Linked DNA regions of Homo sapiens. The protein of the gene in region 1 purifies or fractionates together with the protein of each later gene. This does not show direct contact. Each region holds a gene or a part of one and is shown on either strand. Other genes may lie near its edges.

Evidence for each region. Proteins that work in one complex are often made in the same cells at the same time.
Region 2: the proteins of ARL14EP (region 1) and ATF7IP purify together in Homo sapiens (affinity purification with mass spectrometry; 3 studies listed by BioGRID and IntAct, with this or other methods). This does not show direct contact.

Annotation. Positions count from the first base shown.
Region 1 is NC_000011.10:30,318,659-30,326,114, forward strand, and holds the start of ARL14EP (ARL14 effector protein), read left to right. Parts: upstream 1-4,445; 5' UTR 4,446-4,544; intron 4,545-7,456.
Region 2 is NC_000012.12:14,368,680-14,375,707, reverse strand, and holds part of ATF7IP (activating transcription factor 7-interacting protein 1), read right to left. Parts: intron 1-7,028. UniProt on the Homo sapiens protein: Recruiter that couples transcriptional factors to general transcription apparatus and thereby modulates transcription regulation and chromatin formation. Can both act as an activator or a repressor depending on the context.

The DNA.
Region 1 (7,456 bases):
CCCATCAGCCTCTCCAACTTCCCATCTCTGTCACCTCCATCTCTGTCGCCTCCATTTAGTGAAATCACCGGTTTTTGTTTGGGTTCCCCTCCCTGTTCTAGGCTCTGGACACTGCCTCCAGATAGTAAGCTGGGGTCATTATGGAACTTAATTCATTCGTTTCCCTTCTCTCAGGGATCACGATACTGCACTGCCTGTTGGCTAATGTCTGAAAACAATGATTTCATAGATACATACATATATGTGTATATGTATATATACAACCCTTTCCTAAATATGTATAAGTATACATACTTATGATTTATATGAATGTATATATGTGTGTATATATTATATATCTTATACATATTATATATTTATAATATATATTTTATATATGTATATAAAATATAAATATTATATTTTATCATATGCATATATTTTATATATCTATATATTTATATATTATATATAACATATTCAGTATATAAATATATATAAAATGATATATACATATCATATATTTTATATTATATATATGCGTAAATACATGTATGTAATATATAAAATATATATTTTTTTCAAGTGATACTCCCATCTCAGCTTCTCCAGTAGCTGGGACTACACTTGTGAGCTACCGTGCCCAATTCATTTCACATATTATGCTCAATTTTCCAGATATTTCTAGTGATAGGGTAATTCTGCAGAAGCAGAAATCCAAATGTAATTGCTAAAACCTAAATTAAAACTGAATTGTGTTCTTTAATCTTAAAATTCACATTCAAAGACACAAAAAAGGGGTGCCTCTTTATACTTGACAGTAAAGCTTGTTGAAGATGTTCTCTCAGGTAGCTGTTAGCATCTCTAACTTCCCGCTCTTTAATTGGGTATATTCTGACTTCTACCATCACCATATCACTGAAACAGGTCTTATTACACCATCTATAACTATCTTATTAGTACAGCTAAGGAATATATTTAGTTCTTTTTATTTTCCTTCTAGTTCATTTCAGTCTGAGCTGGAAAATGAGTTATTTCCTTACTTGACTTTCTACACCTGTGCTATCCACTCTGGTAGCCACTAGGCACATGCGGCTACTGAATATTTGAAGTGTAGCTAGACCAAATTGAGAGGCACTGGAGGTGTAATACACACACCAGGTTTCCAAGACATAATATGAATTAAAGGACGTGACATATCTCATTAGTTTTTATGTTAATTGCATGTTAAAATGATAATGTCTTAATTATTGGGTTAAACAAGCGCTATCTCTAAAATTAATTTCATCTGCTTCTGTTTACCTTTTTATATCACTACTAGAAAATTTACAATGGCTTATGTGACTCACATTGTATTTCTAATGGCCAGTACTGCTCTATAACAACCTCTTGCACCGACAGAGCCCTGCTTTAAACTTTCCTTTCTTGGTTTGTGGGTCTCTGTTCTTCCCTAGTTTTCTTGCTACCTCGCTGTCTGCTCCTTCTCAGACTTTTCTGAGACCTAAATCTGTTGTTCTAAAATCGTAGTGTGCTGCAAAATCACCTGGGTTGCTTGCCAAAAATGCAGATTCTTGGATCTTATCTGCAGATATTATGATCTGGTAGACTGGCTTGGAGGACCGAGATTCTGATTCAGTAAAATAGAACGAGAGCTCAGAAATTTAGAATAATCTTTAGCCCTATTCTTTCTCATTTTACCCTATACATTCCATAGGTATCATCTTCCCTATCCCACCCAGCTCCAAAGATAGAACTACCACTCACAGACTAACATCTCCCAAAACTCTTATCTTCCAGCTGAGATCCCTCTCTTATCCTGCCCTCTTCTTCCAGCTGCCAGCTGTATATCTTCACTTGGAGGTACATTTGATAAGTTTGAGAAAACTTAGCGTATTCAGTATTTAAATTCTTATCTCTGTTCTCCCTAGCCCATTCCTCCTTTTGACCTCCCAGTTATCCAAGCTAGAAACCTGAAATAATTATTTACTACTTCCTAACCTCTATATCTAATCAGTTAAAAAATCTGACCAATTCTTACTTAACTTCTATCATCTCTATGCCTTTTAAATGTCCTTCATTTAGGGTTTCTCAATCTTGGCTCTACTGAAATCTTGAGCCAGTTAGTTCTTTGTTGTTGGAGGAGGGAGGTTGTCCTGTGCATTGTTAAGTGTTTAGCAGTTACCCTGTCCTTTACCCCTCTAGATACTAGTAGCACCCCTTGCTGGTACAGCCACAATGTTTCTAGACATTACCAAATCCAGTGGGAGGAGGTGAGTGGGAGGGAATCACATTTCAACCCATAGAGCCACTGCCTCACTTGATGGAGGCCCTCTTCTTAATCATCTGCGTTAGGGCAAGAGTTTCCACCTGGCCCTCTAGCCCAGGACCGCACCTCTCTTCTATTCTCTACACTCCTGATAGTTTTACAGTTTTCACAGGTTAAAATTCAGTATCTCTAATATGGCATAAAAAGGGCATTATTTGTTACCTATGCGCCTTTCCAGCTTTCCACTCTACCCATACTGAAAGGCTTTGCAGTTTCCTTAGGGATGGATGAAAGGCGTAAGAAGTGTTAACTATAGACAGTAACTAAGCTAGTAGCTTATGAGATAAATGCAAAACTCCTAGCATATTTTAAATATAGAATATGAGTAAGCATGTACTTTGTGAAACATAGGCAGGATTATGTAAAATATATAGAGTAAGTTAGTAAACTATAAGACATGCCAAAGTTAAATAGAAATATGATGGAATAGAGAGTCACTGATAGCCAAAAAGGGATGGAAAAACTAAGCAATGAGCAATCATGACATCTCTGGGCTATTAACTATGTCACCTCTAAATCAGCCACCCATTGGTCACACTTAGAATAGTCTCATATGTGCTCTGCCCAGGAAATGCAAATAAAACCTGTATCTGTTCAACAACTTACCGAGTAAGCTCTGGCTGTGACCAGGCATACTTCTCTGCGTCTATCCAATAAAGCAGGTGTGTACCATTGGCCCAAAGCACTTTCCACCTGTGGGCCTCCTTGCTGACACCTCACCTCTGGTCCTCGTAAGTATACCACCAGCGGAGAAGGCTGTTGTGGCAGATAGGATATATGAACATTACTTAACCCATGATTCAGGTGATGGCGTCCTTCCACTTGCTTGCACCTTATCCTAAGTGTGTCCACTTACCACAACTCTTTCACCTTTTCACTGGATACTTAAATTGAATAGGCTATATTATTTAATAATCTTAATTTGATCTGTGAGCCTTCTCTGTTTCATTACCTTTAGGATAGCTTGCCTAGTTTACTAGGAAGTCACAATTGCATCAAATTAAGTTCCATGCAGGCATTAATCTCCTCCCAGAACGCTCCTGCTTTAGCCCCTATCATTTTATCCTGTTTATATCCATGTGTTTCTGTTATGACACTTTTCACACCACACTGTGATTAACTGTTTATTCCTCTCTCACTAGTCTGTGAGCTCCTTGGAAGCAGAAATAAATTTTGTTTTTGTCTAATCATTGCTTAACAAAGTGCCAACCACAAAGTAAACAGTAAAAGAATTACAGAATGCAACCTCCTGCAGACACAGTTGAAGAAACTATTCATTGTTTTTTCCTTTCTGTCATTCCCTAGTTCTAGGCATCAAATCGCTTGCCTAGTCGGCGAGCAGTATGAAAGTGGTGGGAGGACCATAGACGCACTGCAGAAAACAGCTTACAGTAGATGCAGAGAATTACTAGCACGCTTGGGCCTTGGTGGGGCTTGTCTTATTTACCTGTTCCTCATTTTTCACTGGGAGTTTAAAACAAGTTTTTGTTTCCCTGCTATCCCGACCTTAAGATAATTAAAAGGCCAAGAATCTTTAAGAGACTTTCAGTTCTCCTGGATTCTAGATAATAAAACCCACTTTAAAAATTAATGAGCACCTATACTGTGACAGACAATAAGGATACAATAAAAATACCATTTCTGTTCTGAGAAAATTTACAAGCATCTTCCTGGAGCCTACATTTTACTCGAAGTAATAGCTATTTTTATAGCTTACAATAAAAGATGCATTTTGGAATATATTTCGCTTGAATTAAAGAAATAGAATGTGAGACCTTAAACAAAGGGTCCGTTCTTCAGATCCTTTTAACTCACACTCTCCTTCAGGGGTCGGGGTATTTGGGTGCAAAAGTTTACTATCACGCACAGGTGTAGAGATGTACAAATACGATCCAATTTAGTGGAAACTGTGTCTTGTAAGAGATGGCCCCCAGGGACCTCCCACATCCCTAACCTCTCGGAGGACTGCAAAAGACAGCATCTGAAGCACCTCTTGCCTCGCCTTGAATCATTTGCCACTTCACACCGCCCCGCCCCTTCCGTCCCCGGAGGCGGCCAGCCTCGTGTCCGCTCTAGGCTTCTCCCGGACGTCTCTTTGTGGTGGCGTTGAGCTCCTCTAGCCCGCGCTTGCCGTCCTCTCAGTGGTAGCGCGGGGACTGGCTGGGAAGCGGTCGGTCGAGTGTGGCCTGTGTGGACTCGCATCTTGCCCGAAGCCGGGCGGAGGAGAGCTCAAGCTAAGGTGGAAGGGGAACGGGGGAGGCCCTGGAGAGGAGTGGGAGAGTGGAGACAGGCCCCTGGGTGGCGAGGGAGCCCGGCGGCGTAACGGGGGAACCCGGGGAGAGGTGGAAGAGGAGGCCCGCACACGTGAGGGGGATTTCCAGCTGCTGGCCGGGGCCTCTCACCCCTACCCCCGCGTAGTTCATCTGCGACGCAACGCCTTGTGTCAAAGCCCAGCACAGGTTCTGCCGCCTCTGACCTCTCTGAGGGTCGTCGCCTGTCCTGTAGGCCCAGGACCTTCAAAGCTACGATTTTGACGTGAACTACTTAGGGTTATTGTGGCCTTGAACTCCGTAGACAGCCTTTATCTCTGCTATTTTTGTTTTTAATTTTTCAAATCAGAATCCTTTCAACCCTGGCCGTTTGAGGCCAAAGGCTAATGTTTATTTTTCCATCCCGGTACCATGAACTTAGTAGGTGCCCACTGGACGGATCTGGTGGTTTTAGTCATTTGTAAATAGCCGTGAACTAAGGAAGAAATGTATGTGGCCTCTTACAGGGTTGGGTTGGGAATCATTGCAGGGTTTGGGGGCACTCTGTTAGGCATGATAACAACAGCTCTAGGCTTGAGTTTCTTCATCTGTAAATGAGAATGATAGTACTTTCCTCAGGGTGGCTATGAAGGTTCCTGAAATGATGTTTGCCCTAAGCACTGTACCTGGCATGTCCTGACTACCACACTTGAACCAAATCTTTTCAATGGTGTTATGGACTATATTTTTGTTTTAAATTGCCTTTACCTTTCTTATTGTACCTAGATCTTCCTGAGGATTGAGACTCTCCTCTTTGCCTTTGGGCCAATTGTCATGTTATAGGTAATCAGTATTTGAAGATGACAGGCACAAAAAGTTCACAGTTGCAGGATGCGTGACTTTTGTAGGCGTATGTACCCATAACTAAAGCTCCTGATTTGGGGAGTAGGGGTAGATTAAATTATATTTTTATTAAATAAGAGATAATCTGGGAAGACGCTGTGTAAGTTGTAAGACCCTATGCCAAGAAAAGCCTTTAATTTTTTTCATAAAACATTTCATGAAAACTTTTTTTATGTTTTTCATAAAAGAGACATCAGTTGACCTAAAAACGAAGTAAATTTTTTGTTTTGTTAAATTTCCTCTAAATGTTACTTTTCCCACTAATAAGGAGACTGGTAACAAACTAAAAAACTATGTTAAGGGAAATTAACATATTGGAACGGGTATTTCTGCATCTCCCCTACAAATTTAGGAAGAAAAAGTGAGTTCCCTAATTAATCCTCAATTCCCTCTGCTGTTGTTTTGTTAGTGGCTGTTTTGCTGTTTTGTTAGTGGTGGGGGGGGTGTTCTGCATTAACACCCCGAAACCCCTGTGATAATGTCCTAGACCTTGCAAGCATCATGGCCGCGTGTGAGTTTTCTCAGCTTCCTCAACCTAATCTACCTTCCTTACCGTTTGGTAATGGGCAGCAAGAGAAAATGCTTAAGAACTCTTTAAAACTACTGATGTTTTAAAGTAAAGCTGGATAATTCCCTGAGCTGGCAGCGTTCAAATTGTATGAGGAGCAAATACTTTTGTTTACTGCCTAAGGTAGTAGGAGAGGTCTAATCAAAGTATTCTACATTTATTTCATTCTCTTTTGATTCTTAGGTAGTGCTACAAAAATATTAAATGTTAATCTTAGAATACAAAACATGCTGTATTTAGGCACTAAAGTAAAGTGATGTCAATCCTAAGGCAGCAGAAAGTCTTAATTTTCTCCTATGCAGAATTTTTAAAAGACAATGTCAGATAAGAAATCTGGACTTAGGAGAGACTTTATTCAAAAGGGTTATCACAAAAGGAGAAAAGGGACTTTTGCAATGGGTAGAACCAAAAGATCTGCAAGAATCTCCAAGGAGTGAACTGTGCTAGAAAGTTTTGGTGTGAGGAAGTAGGATATAAGGGTGGCTTGATCTAATAGTAGATCTGAGAATGTTATTCCTTGGCTCTGGCTGAGAGTTGGCCAAAGCTCAGGAACCTGGGGGAAGGAGAGAAACTAAAGTTTGATTAACAAGTATTTTGTTCCACTTGATCTGTAGGGCCAAGCAGATCAGCAAATTATTCATAAATTCATAGTTGAAGCAAAAAATGAGAATTTGGAGGGTCTTTCTTTTGCCTGGTCATAGGTAAACAAGGGGGGATCCTTGAGTCTTACCTAACTCAAGGGTGGGAGGATTTTTTAAATTATAGCTAATAAGGAGCCAGCACAGGGCTCAAGCAAAATTCAACTTGCCAAAAAGTGTTTTTATTATTTGACATTGAAAAGTATTGAAAACCTGGATTTTATTTATACCATGGTGAATCTTTCTAAAACTGGGGTTTTTGTTATTGGTTTGCTTGTTATCCTATAAGAAGCTGGATTTTTTTTCTTCCATGAAGAGTACTAGGTTTTATATTGACCAAAGTGTTTGGAGCAAATTAATCTTTTCTTGCGTTAAAAGATTATTAAAATAGGAACTGGTAAGATGCTATAACCAGTTTAAATGACAATTAAAAGTAGACATGTTTATAGAGCAGGAATATTGAAATAAATGTGCAAGTGAGGGCAAAATTGGCTGCTTCCACAGTCAGACGGAAGTCCATTGAACCTTCAGCAGATAGAATTTACAAGAATACAGACAATTATTTTGCATTGCTGTTGGTTATCTACAGTTGACAGTTGTAAAATAGCTCCAAGATGCTGAAAGAATCAGACTTCCCATGTAATCAGAATGTGAAAACCTGAAAGGCTGTGCTCTCAACAGTGCAGTTTTCTATTGAAGCAGATGTTTTTCTCTGTCCTTAGTGTATCGAATTTAAATCTCCTCTCCCTCAATAATCTTCCCTAGAGTTAGACTTCCTGTAAGGCAAATACAT
Region 2 (7,028 bases), on another chromosome or scaffold:
AGGTGGTAACACCACATTTTAAAGATAAAGAACACTGAGAGGAGACACTAATTGCCCAGGTCCCAATACAAAACTACTGTTCTTTCCACTTCACTGTATAACTAACTGATTTTAGGAAAATTTTTTGTTTTTTCTTTTGTTCTTCTTTTCTTTCTTCATTTTTTTATTTATTTTTATCTTTCAATGTTTAAATCATTTAAAGTAAGTTTGGTGGGGGAAGAGGATTATACAAACCTAAAATACAAAATAATTATATCATTCCATCTTTTCCTCAAACCCTTATTAATTTACATACGTAGGTTCTTCACAGTCATATTTTAGAAACTTTTTATTAACAAGCAACTGGTTCTTAATGGATGACATTGAAAACTGTTTTTCCTAAAAGCAACTATTTATTATTTTTCATATGTAAAGTGCCTGTCAAATCTTCCCATGACAATTCATCATGTGGGTATTTGCCATCTGAGTAAATTACATGTTTGATTAAAAAAAAAAAGTTCTGACATCTGTGGATAATGAGTTAAATAAAAGAAAATAATTAGAATATCTTATTCCCTTTTTTTTTTCACCTCCACCTAAAACGAAGGAATTCTATTCTTTCAATAAGCAAGTATTTATTGAATATTAAGGGAGGCATGGTGGAAAGCAAGGCATGGTGGAAAGCAATCTTACACTTTTAATAGTGGTCTTATCATACCTTATTAGAAAGGATTTGTCTTAAAAAATTGTCAGATATATCAATAAGATATGATTCCTAACCCCAGGAAACTTATAAAGTACTACACAAAAAACAAATAACTATAAATATAAAAGTGGAAAGGAATAAATGCCTTTAAAAAATATATGAAGTAAAGCAAAGAAAAATTAGAGAATTTCCAGTTGAGAGCAACAACATGCTTTAATAGGCATACTATGTGGGTGCCATGGCAACTATGACTTTTATTCACAAAAACCAAGGATTTGTATCACAGAGCTATTAAGAGTTCTCCTAACACACTACCTTCCTTTCTGGCTCTAAGATTTTGAACATACTATTTATTCTCTTTACTAGTATTATCTGTCTAATTCATTCCTTAAAATACAACTCCCATAAAATCTCCTTGATCTCCTTCCAACACTCTCACCACTTTCTGTACCCTACAAAAATATATATTGTTTTACTTGTCATATTCTGTAGAAAGCTACTTTTAACTACTTACTTATTAATCAGGTAAGTTTTGCCTATATGCAGAGAATTTACAACCACAATCTTTTTACCTGTGTATATTACAAGGCCCTTGGAAGTCACATTTTCGGCCAGGCACAGTGGCTCACACCTGTAATCCCAACATTTTGGGAGGCCAAGAGGGGAGGATTGCTTGAGCCCAGGAGTTCAAGACCAGCCTGGGCAACAAGGCAAGACCCCCATCTCCACAAAAAAAAAAAAAAAAAAAAATTACAAAATTAGCTGGGTTTGGTGGCATGTGCCTGTAGTCCAAGCTACCTAGGAGGCTGAGTCAGGAGGATCCCTTGAGCCCAGGAGGTCAAGGTTACAGTGAGCCATGATCACACCACTGCACTCCAGCTGGAGTGACAGAGTGAGACCCTAGTCTCAATTAAAAAAAAAAAAAGTCATATTTTCCATCATGGAAAATGTATATTTTATACATACAGTTATAAACAGAGAAAAAAAAATCTGGATAAAATAATGCAAACATAAACTATTCAAACAATTGTCACTCGATTCATCTACAGTCCTTTTGAATTAAGCAAGTTAACCTGTAAAGTTCAAAAATACTACACTGAGTTTTAAAAATTTGAAATTCTAATTCTTGCAAAACTAATCATAATGTTTTCAACGGCAAGCAGAGAGGGGAAGAATTCTATCAAATATAAATATTTATAATAACTGGGACCCCAACCACAAATCATGAACACAAAACCCCCAAAATACCATTTCAATGGAAAATATACAGTTATACTATAACTGAACCTAAATCTTAAAAGAGAAATAGTTTTCAGTACCAAATTATGAAGTACTTTGAGACCACTTCTCCCAATTCCTTATATAGCAGAAAATGCTATTCATTAATATCCATTTCTCTTTTATAAAATTCTCTAGTTTTAGCTAAGCATATGATTATCCAGCTAGATATATTTCCCAGACTTCCTTTCCCAGCTAAATATGTCCCAATGACTAAATGATCACACATAAACCATGAGTCAAAGTGCTATGTGCCACTTCCATATCATGCTCTCAAAAGAAAGAATATGCACTCCCATTGTTCTTTCTTCCTTGCCTCTAGCTAGTAAAACTAGAGAGTAATCATGTTTCACCTAGTGATGGAAGCCATATGTTAAGGCAAAACCACTTACAAACTCTAAACAGTCTTACTTTGTATGGTTACATGAGAAAAAAACATGTGTCATCTTTAAACAACAGGAATGGAGTCTCCTATACTGTGGCAGCTTAGTTTTTACTCTAATGGAATTCACTTCTGACATTTACCACCTAAAAGGAAATAAAAGAGTTCAAAAGCAGTCTCTCTTTTCCCTTACATGCTTTTTCCTATGACATTCTATCTAATAAGAGTAACAGGGCAGATATACATCTAAGGCTCCAAAGCCTTAGCTGGGAATAAGCTGCAGCAGTCAAGTCATCCTTTATTGTTCCATCAAACTCTTTCTCCTGGTCCTCAAAACAGCAGATTCCCTTTCCATCTTTTTAGCTTTATCCTTCTACAAAATGGTAGGCATTATCACTGAGAATTACTGAACCAAAGAAAGTTCCTTTTACAGCTTTGACAGTTCTGAGGACAACTATTCTAACATACAAATCAAATTTCTTATTAGAATGTTAAATTATTAGAATGCCAAGAGTGATGGACACATAATTTCTAGGTATCAAACCAGATAATACTTCCCCAAAGTAGCATAGGGCTATACAAACAACAAAGAAAGGGAGAACGGATCATATATAGTAAGACATTATGGCATTACTACCTCACATCACCATCATACAAAGGGGTCCTCTCTCCCAAATACAGCTAGTTACTACCAGTTATTGGATATAAAAGAACACAAAATGTTTCTTATAATATTCTGAGCAATGGAAAACTGCAGACATGAATAAGTGCATATTTCTGATGGCAAAGTTAATAAGTCATCTTCATTTCCCAGATTCTCATATTCATATAGGTCCAACTATAAAGACTCTCAGGAAGGTATAACTGTTCCCTTAGGCCTATGGTATTTTTTTTTTTTTTTTGAAAAGTGGCTGAGGTACCTGAGTCATCCTCTTAAAGATTCTAAACTCCAAATGATCGAAATTTAAAATTGAAACATTCACACCATATAAACAAGCACTAGTAGCCCTGATCTACTTATTCTTAACTGAAAGTGCTCCCCAGCACTCACTCTCTGTCTCCAATACAAAATGGTTTCCACCATGCAAGCTGAATCATCTATAAAAAGTTTAATTTTCTTTGTTTTCAACAAATTAAAATGCCTGGAGGAGCCCCTGATTTACTCTGTGGATGGCAGGACAATCTGAGAAAGAACATGGCAAAGTAATGTTTAAATACTCTTGGCCTCTCTAATAAAATATAAGGTCAAACAAGCAAGAAGTTTAAAAGAGAGTTCCACTAAAGGATAGGCAATTTCTAAGTACTCTAGGAAAGTGACAAGGACTATGGTCTCTGAAGCTAATTAATGACATTAAGGTAATCTGTTTAAATAATGTTAAAACATCACCTAATTTTTCAATCAATAATATGCCCCACAACTGTTAGAAACTCAAAAGGCAGGAACTTTATTCTCAAGCTTCTTTATACATGTGACTCCCTTGAAAAACAAGGTATGCAGCCAATGCATAAATTTTCCATAGGCCTCAAAACCTAAAAGAAAAAATTATAATAGAAATCCTTCTAAACTAAATCACACGCTCATTTCCCTTCTGAAATAGGTTAAATATAACAATATTCTCTGATTCAGAATCATTAATAAAATCATCAATTAATAATGAACATTCTATAACTACTGATTCAGCTCTGGGAATACTGATTCCCAAACTAAATAGCCTCATAACTAAGTTTATAAATTATTGCTTCTAACAGTAGAAATATAACCCTCCTTTACTATCATGATGCTGGACATCATTTCTTTTCCCTACCAAAATGCATTTCTCAAGTAGCACTTCTAATTTTTTACTCCTCATCTGTTATAGTCTAGAAACCAAGTATAATAATAAACCAGAACTAGAAAAAGTTCTCAACTTTCACAAAAAAGTAAAATATCTAAGCTGTTATAAGCAGTGTTGCTTGAAAAAGACCCAAAGGCAGGGATTTTTCATTAAAAAAGATAAACTGCTTAAGAAAGGCCAATAATATCTTAATATTTTATATCCATTTTCTAGATTTATTTTCATAAAGCCAATAATATTTTATCATTTGAGTTCTATATTTCCGTGATTTCTTCTTTTCATTCCTCCACTAATTTACAAGTTTAGTTCAATAAAAATGTTATTTTGGCAATAAACTGACTCCTGAATCAATTATTTAAAAGATATAAAGTAGAATTACAGCTGAAATACATCCTTATTAATCAAGATAATCTTTTTCAATGCAATCAGCATAAAAAAGAGATTTAATGGAAAATAAATTTATTCTAATAATTAGGGAAACATCCTTATCAGAAAATATAATAATTTAATGATACCAAGGAAACTAAAATAAAAATTTTTTATCTTTATTATGAGATTAAGCCTCACCCTGGCCAGAAAAGGAGTAAGGTACCTTTTCAAATTCCTCCATCAAAAAAAAAAAAAATTGTCTGTGTTTAACAAAAAAGGATTTTGATTTCGAATATTGTACAATACTTTATTTTGCGACTTATTTTTCCCACGTCTAACTTCATACTGATACTACTTTTATGTCATCATGTCCTAAACCAGATTGAAAACAGAAATATAACCTTATATTGTCTCCTAATTCATCCCTACTAAAATTATAGCTGCACCAAGAAAACATCCTCCTGAAAAGTCACAGATACCACAAATTCTCCCAGAGTTCCTAGGAAATAGTGCTTTTTGGTAGTCTACAGGAAGTGTGTAATACCGATGAATTAAAAAAAATAGTATAAGGTTATAAATTCACCCAATGTAAATTTAATGGAATTGTAACCAAAACCATTAGCTGGCTTTTTTTTCTTAATTAACCAAATGAACCTAAAGTTGATCTGCAAAAACAGTCAAAATCAGCTATGAAAATTGTAAAATAGAATTGTGAGTGGGTATTGGATTTTATATAGGATATAGCACTACAAACACATATTTAAATTGTGTACCGTCCTACAGCAAATAAAACAATGCAATAATGCTCTAAGAATAAGGCCCAGATACAGTCATTGTCAACCTCTGTTTAAACTTTATATCATATATTCTTTTGAGAAGCTAATGAAAGCTATCACTTTTTCCCCAGAAAAATGCACATAGGAGGCCAGGCGCAGTGGCTCACACTTGTACTCCCAGCACTTTGGTAGGCCGAGGCAGACGGATCACCTGAGGTAGGAAGTTCGAGCCAGCCTGACCAATATGGAGAAACCTCGTCTCTACTAAAAATACAAAATTAGCCGGGCATAGTGGCACATTCCTGTAATCCCAGCTACTCAGGAGGCTGAGGCAGGAGAATCATTTGAACCTGGGAGGCGGAGGTTGCGGTGAGCTGAGATCGTGCCATTGCACTCCAGCCTGGGCAACAAGGGCGAAACTCCATCTCAAAAAAAAAAAAAAATGAACATATGCAGACTTACATAAAATTGTGTATATCAAGGGATCGGTGGAACCCCTAGAGGACAATGGACCCCAGGTTAAATATACCTAGTATATGAATCAGAATTGTTTGCTACCAAAGCAATAAGAAATGGATCAAGTCTATGGAAACTAGATATCTGGAAAAAAATGGAAACTAGCAACTTATCTTAACACACAATATGTCAAAACACAGATATGTCCACATAGATGTAAAAGTATTTTTTAAGTTTATTAAAACTTCCAGAAAAAGTTCTAGTAAAAAATTAACAAAACACATGAACAAGGCTGTGCACGGTGGTTCACACCTGTAATTCTAGCACTGTGGGGGCCAAGGCAGGCAGATCACCTCAGGTCAGGAGTTCAAGACGAGCCTGGCCAACACGGGGAAACCCCGTCTCTACTAAAAGCAGGGCATGGTGGTGCACGCCTGTAATCCGCTACTTGGGAGGCTCAGGTAGCAGAATCGCTGGAACCCAAGAAGAGGTTACAGTGAGCCAAAATCACACCACTGCACTCCAGCCTGTGAGACAGAGCTAGACTCCACCTCAAAAAACAATAATAATAAAATAAAATACAATATAAACATACAATTCACCTTACAACAGGTAATATTTTCTGGGCAGACAAGTGCTGTAGAAATCATAAAGGAAAAAGGAAAGGCAGTACAGGCTGGACATGGTGGCTCATGCTTGTAATCTCAGCACTTTGGGAGGCTGAAGTGGGAAACTCTCTTGACCCCTGGAGTTCAAGACCAGCCTGGGCAACATAATGAGGCTTTGTTTATTAAAAAAAAAAAAAAAAGAAAAAATTAGCGGGGTGTGATATCCTTCACCAGTAGTCTCAGTTACTCCAGTGGTGGGAGAATTGCTTGAGCCTGGGAGGTCGAGGCTGCAGTGGGCAGAGATCACTGCCACTGCACTTTAGCATGCGCAGCAGAGCAAGATCCTATCTCAAAAAAAAAAAGGGGGGCAGTACATTTTACTACATAAAAATGCAAAACTTCTTAACATATACAATCATAAACCACTTAAAAGGTAATTTTAAAATTACTGTGACAAATATTAAAAGCTAAGGACCCCAAAGCCGTAAGTAGCTGTTACCAACAAATAAGAAAAACAGTAACACTCATCATAGAAAAATACACAAAAAGTCAAACAGCTAATTCACAGAAAATGAAAAAAATGCATATATAAAACAATAACAAATTCAACTTCACTAGTTATCAAAAAAAGTTAATGAG